Linked DNA regions of Homo sapiens: region 2 is linked to region 1. The links come from fine-mapping of genetic effects on gene expression. A gene starts in region 1. The other region holds a variant in brackets. All regions are shown on one strand. Distances are from middle to middle.

Region 1 (2,900 bases):
CTGGCAGATGACCCAGGGAGGGGTACAGACTGGAAGTGGAGGGGAGGCCGTGCTGGTGGCTGGGCGGGGGGCAGGGAGCCCAGGAGGGAGGACTCTCAGCAGGGCAGGAGACAGCAGCTAGGACTGGGAGCGGGAGGCCCGCCGTGGACAGGCCCACTCACCCCGTAGGTGATGAGCAGGGCCCTGGGTTTGAGCAGGTGTCCTGCTGCTCTGAAGAGCCCCTGGTGAGTAGGAACAGGACGGCAGTGAGGTGCTGCCCCCAACAGAAGCCAGGCCCTGAGGCTGGAGACCCTCACCCCGACTGTGATGGGGGAGGCTGGAGACCCTCACCCCGACTGTGATGGGGGAGGCTGGAGACCCTCACCCCGACTGTGATGGGGGAGGCTGGAGACCCTCACCCCGACTGTGATGGGGGCAAATCTGGCATCCCAGCTGCCCCCATGCAGGGTGAGTGGTGCCACGGCAGACACCCATGCTGGGCTCCCCACAGACCTCCGTGCAGCGCAGGGGGCTGACATGGGCCATGTTGATGCAGAGCAACAGGTCCAGCGACTGTGGCAGGATCCCGCCCCAGTGCTCCCAGCCCCACGTCACGTCCAGGTGTAGCGGGGCCTTCACGTTGGTCAGGCCCTGGGCTTGCGTGGTGGCCGCGATGCTGCAGGAGGCGAACGCTTGGGTGGGGGCCGAGTCCTGTGCACCCGCCTTTCCGACGCCCCCACAGAATTTCTTAGGGGAGGCTGGGGGGCACGTTGAGGAGCGGAGACCAAAGCGGCTGGGAAGGGGGACCCCGAGGTCCACCCACTTCCGCAGCCGCGGGGGCCGCACAGCTAGGGCCTGCCCCGGGGGCACCCCCAGGCTCCCACCCCGCACCCTCAGAGCCCGAGCCGCATCCTTTTCCTCCGGGGCTGCGGGCCGTGGGCTCTTGAGGCCCCGGACCGCCGCACCGATAGAAGTGGCCGCCCCGGGGGCCGCACCTGTCCAGGCAGCGCTGGTCCACGTCCGACGGCTGCCACTCGGCCAGGGGGAAGGCCCGCGCGAAGTGCGCTGCGTGCTGGCCGGAGCCCGAGGCCACCTCGAGGACGCGGACGCCACGCTGGGCCGGATCCAGGTACTGCCGCAGCACGTGCAAGATGGGATCCTTGTTCCGCTCCGCGGCCGCCGCCACCAGCATCGCGGCAGCAACAACTCCCCGCCGCGGACGCGGCGCGGGTCGCGTCGGGGGCGGTGGCCGGGCTTCCGCGGGGCACGTCGGGAGCTGTAGTCCAGATACCGCGGGGCACGTCGGAAGCTGATAAACTACAACTCCCAGGAGCACGCGCGCCTCCTGTTAAAGGACCAGCAGTCGCCAGAGGCACGGTGGGGAGCGGCTCAGCGGTGTGTGGCGGTCCCAGGCAGGGGACTGAACGGCGAGCTTGGCTTGCTGGTTTACAGGCGCCTCAGCTCAGGCACCCTGTCGCCCATGGCCGTCCAGGGTTTTCAGGGCACCTGTGTCACTCTCCGAAATTTGTGTCAGCGCTGCGCCAGACTGGGCGCCTTCCCTTGGTTTCGGGTTTTCTCTACTTTTAAATTTCTGGCGTTAGCGAGAGTTCGATGTTCAAATGGGAAAAAAAACTAAGTGCGCCGCCCGGGAATCGAACCCGGGTCGCAAGAATGGGAATCTTGCATGATACCACTACACCAGCGGCGCTGTCTAAGACAGTTGCTGCCCGCGGAGACAAGAGACTGTGACGCGGGAAGTCCTCCGGGCGTGCGCCGCCGCTGGCGCCGGGCTCAGCGCAAGGGAGCTGGCGACTGCATAGGAGGACCCAGCTGGCGGGACCGCGAGGGTAAGAGTCTCGCGGTGCCCCCCAGTGCCGGAGGGGAAGGAGCGGGCGTGAAGGACGCGAGCTGGAGGACAGTCTCGATTCGGGCCTGAGCCGTGGAAGCCGTTGGCCTTCGTGAGCCGATGGGGGCGAGGCCCTGTCGGGGCGGGGCTGGGGAGAGGGCGGGGCTGGGCTGGGGCCCCCTGTTGGTCCGAGTTTAGGGCGGGGTTGCCGGAGGGGCGGGGCCATATCGGGGCGGGTCCGAGAGGGGAGGCGGGGCTGGGGGGCGGGACATGAGTGTGGACTGGCGGGTTGGGGCGGGGCCAGAGCGGGGTTGCGGCAGGGGCGGCAGGGGCGGCAGGGGCGGCAGGGGCGGCAGAGGGCGGGGCGGGCGGTCCCAGCCTGCAGAACTGGGCGGTCTGCGGGAGGGGCACGAATAATGCCCCAGGGTTTCTCTGTGACACTGGGGTAACAGCACCAGCTCAGGGCCCACGGATAGCGTGAGGGGTCGGTCGGTGACCCCCGAAATCAAGTCACAGGCCGCGATTTATGTGCGCCCGAGGGTTGGGGTCCCAGCCTCAGAGCCGGGCTCTTCTCCAGAAAGTGCCAAGCGCCTGGCTCTGCATTCAGGACTGGCTTAGCGCCTTTGCTGAGCCGTTTTTCACCAATGGGAACCCCATATCGCTCTGGCTAGGGCAAGGACGTTGGAAGGGGTAAACCAGGGAGGGCCAGTCACGTGGCTCAGGGTAGGAGAGTGGCTTACAGGCTGCCAGTCTGGGACTGGGAACGCGGGCCATGGGGGGCTCAGGGAGTCAGGGGTCAGGGACAACCCTGCCAGGAGATGTTGGTGTCCGCCGTGGTGGTGACTGGCCAGACCCTGCAGCAGGCTCTGCGGCCCAAGCCCACGCTTTCCTCGCCTGACTGGCCGCCTCCATCTCTCTTTCTGTGGGCTGAGCACTTTCCCTGCGCCTCCTTCAATGCGCACCCTGCCCCCAACCCCCACCTCGAGGAGAGCCCCAGGAGGAGGGACCTATGATGACCAGTGGTTCTCCTGGGGCCCATGCACCTCTCCTCACCCAGATTTCACCTGGGCTTCCC
Region 2 (2,900 bases), 190 kb before region 1:
TGTCAGGAGATCGAGACCATCCTGGCTAACACGGTGAAACCTCGTCTCTCCTAATAGTACAAAAAAATTAGCCGGGCGTGGTGGCAGGCACCTATAGTCCCAGCTACTCAGTGGGCTAAGGCAGGAGAATGGTGTGAACCCGGGGGGCAGAGGTTGCAGTGAGCCGAGATCGCGCCACTGCGCTCCAGCCTGGGCAACAGAGCGAGACTCCATCTCCAAAAAAGAAAAGAAGACTAAAACGTATAAATTATACCTGTCTCCCTACAGAAATTCATTAAGAGACTCATGCTCAGACTGTTGTCTGGTTAATGTGAACAACATGAGCACATCTGAAGAAAGGGTGAGAACAAAGGGTTACATTCAGCTTTCAGGTCAACTAATTTAAAACAACAGGACGGGCCAGGCACAATGAATTGTGAAAAATAACGCTGACAATTTAAAATAGTGGAACAAAATTAAAAAAGGAAAAAGAAAAAAAACTGTAAAGAAAATTTGACATATGAAAAAGCGTATTGTCCAGGCGCAGTGGCTCACACCTGTAATCCTAGCATTTTGGGAGGCCGAGGTGGGCGGATCATGTGAGGTCAGGAGTTTGAGACCAGCCTGGCCAACATGGTGAAACCAATCTCTACTAAAAATACAAAAATTAGCCGAGCGTGGTGGCGCGCATCTGTAGTCCCAGCTACTTGGGAGGCTGAGGCAGGAGAATCACTTGAAACCATGAGGCAGAGGTTGCAGTGAGTCGAGATTGCGCCATTGCACTCTAGCCTGGGCAATGAGGGAAACTGTCTCAAAAAAATAGCCGGGCGCAGTGGCTCATGCCTGTAATCCTAGCACTTTGGGAGGCCGAGGTGGGCAGATCACCTGAGGTCAGGAGTTTGAGACCAGCCTGATCAACATGGAGAAACGCCGTCTACTAAAAATACAAAATTAGGCCGGGCGCGGTGGCTCATGCCTGTAATCCCAGCACTTTGGGAGGCCGAGGCAGGTGGATCACGAGGTCAGGAGATCGAGACCATCCTGGCTAACACGGTGAAACCCCTTCTCTAATAAAAATACAAAATATTAGCCGGGCATGGTGGCGGGCGCCTGTAGTCCCAGCTACTCGGGAGGCTGAGGCAGGAGAATGGCGTGAACCCAGGAGGCGGAGCTTGCAGTGAGCCGAGATGGTGCCACTGCACTCCAGCCTGGGCAGCAGAACGAGACTCCGTCTCAAGAAAAAAAAAAAAAAAAAAAATACAAAATTAGCCGGGCGTGGTGGTGCATGCCTGTAATCCCAGCTACTCGGGAGGCTGAAGCAGGAGAATCACTTGAACCTGGGAGGTGGGGGTTGCGGTGAGCCAAGATCGCACCACTGCACTCCAGCCTGGGCAACAAGAGTGAAACTCTGTCTAAAAAAAAATTGAATAACATAAATAAGTAAATAAATAAGTAAATAAAAACAGGATGGAAATTATACCTGAAATTTAAAAAGTAAGATGGCTGTGGTAGGCCAAATAATGGCTCCCAAAGATAGCTAGGTCCTGCTCTGTCCGCTGAGACCACCACACTCTACACAGTAGAGTCCTCCTCATGCTATGCTCTGGCCCTCTTGCCCCTCCAACCTCACTTCCAGCTGCCGGCCCCCTGCTCACTCTGCTCCTGACACTCCACAGGCACACATCCTCCTCCAGGCCTGTGCAGTAGCTATT[C/T]CCTCTGCCTGGAATATGCAGTCCTGTATATCTCCAGCTCAGTGTCTCACAGCGCTGTCACCAGGCGGGACAGAGTGTCGGGCTCATTCAGGTGCTCAGCAGAATTCAGCTCCTTGAGGTTATAGAACTGAGGACCCTGTTTGCTGGTTGGTCGTTTGCCAGAAATGGTTCTTAGGTCCTGGAGAACCCTCAGGTTCAACCACATGGTCCTCCCAGGTATGGCAGCTTACTTCTTCTTTGAGACCAGGAGGCTGCTACGATGGAGTCTTAAGTTAACATAAATCACAGCTAGGTGTGGTGGCTCACACCTGTAGTCCCAGCTACTCAGGAGGCTGAGGTGGGAGGATCGCTTGAGCCTAGGATCTTGAGGCTGCAGTGAGCTGTGTTTACCACACCACTGCACTCCAGCCTGGGTGACAGGGAGACCCTATCTCAAAAAAAAAAAAAAAAAGTTTTAGGCCGGGTGCAGTGGCTCACAGCTATAATCCCAGCACTTTGGGAGGCTGAGTTGGGTGGATCACTTGAGGTCAGGAGTTTGAGACCCGCCTGGCCAACATCGTGAAACCCTGTCTCTACTAAAAATACAAAATTAGCCGTGCGTGATGGCGGGCATCTGTAATCCCAGCTGTTGCGTAGACTGAGGCAGGAGAATTGTTTGAACCCGGGAAGCAGAGGTTGCAGTGAGCCAAGGTCGTGCCACTGCACTCTAGCCTGGGCGACAGAGTGAGGCTCCATCTCAAAAAAAAATTTTGTTTTAAAGATTAAGTTAACCTCGTCACAGTGACTGTGCCACCACATGCACAGGCCTTGCCCACACTCAAGAGAGGGGGTCTTAGAATTCTGCCTGCTACCATGGTCTAGTCTTGGCACACCTTCCTTGACAACATGGAAGCCAGGTCACTACCCAGGCCACCTACAAGGAAGTTCACCATTTGACCTGCCGAACGTGCACAACAAACTTTTTTTCTCTTTCTTGAGACAGGGTCTCACTCTGTCGCCCAGGCTGGAGTGCAGTGGAACAATCTTGGTATACTGCAACCTCTGCCTCCCGGGCTCAAGCGATCCTTCTGTCTCACCCTCCCGAGTAGCTGGGACCACAAGCATGCACCACCATGCCCAGCTCTGGCTAATTTTTTGTATTTTTGGTAGATATTTTTGTATTTTTGTTTCACTGTGGTGCCCAGGTCAGTTTCGAACTCCTGACCTCAA

Evidence for each region. PIP is the estimated chance that this variant, and not a neighbour inherited with it, causes the effect.
Region 2: its variant is the best candidate, but not a certain one, in a credible set for the expression of METTL26 in cerebellum (GTEx, PIP 0.83).

What each region holds. Positions count from the first base shown.
Region 1 is chr16:635,120-638,019 of GRCh38, forward strand. METTL26 (methyltransferase like 26) reads right to left here and starts at 1,186. Exons shown (of 6, transcript NM_032366.5): 1 at 975-1,186; 2 at 493-655; 3 at 162-221. The coding sequence starts at 1,171. TRG-CCC2-2 (tRNA-Gly (anticodon CCC) 2-2) reads right to left here and starts at 1,687; the gene lies at 1,617-1,687. It overlaps LOC100287175 (a long non-coding RNA gene), which reads left to right and starts at 1,833. Exons shown (of 4, transcript NR_149003.1): 1 at 1,833-1,937. RefSeq lists enhancers at 126-785, 2,216-2,900 and silencers at 848-1,027, 1,078-1,197.
Region 2 is chr16:447,522-450,421 of GRCh38, forward strand. All of the region lies in intron 1 of RAB11FIP3 (RAB11 family interacting protein 3), which reads left to right. Among named protein-coding and RNA genes, the nearest start is that of RAB11FIP3, 23 kb to the left of the region's middle. The variant C/T (reference allele first, on the strand shown) is at 1,692.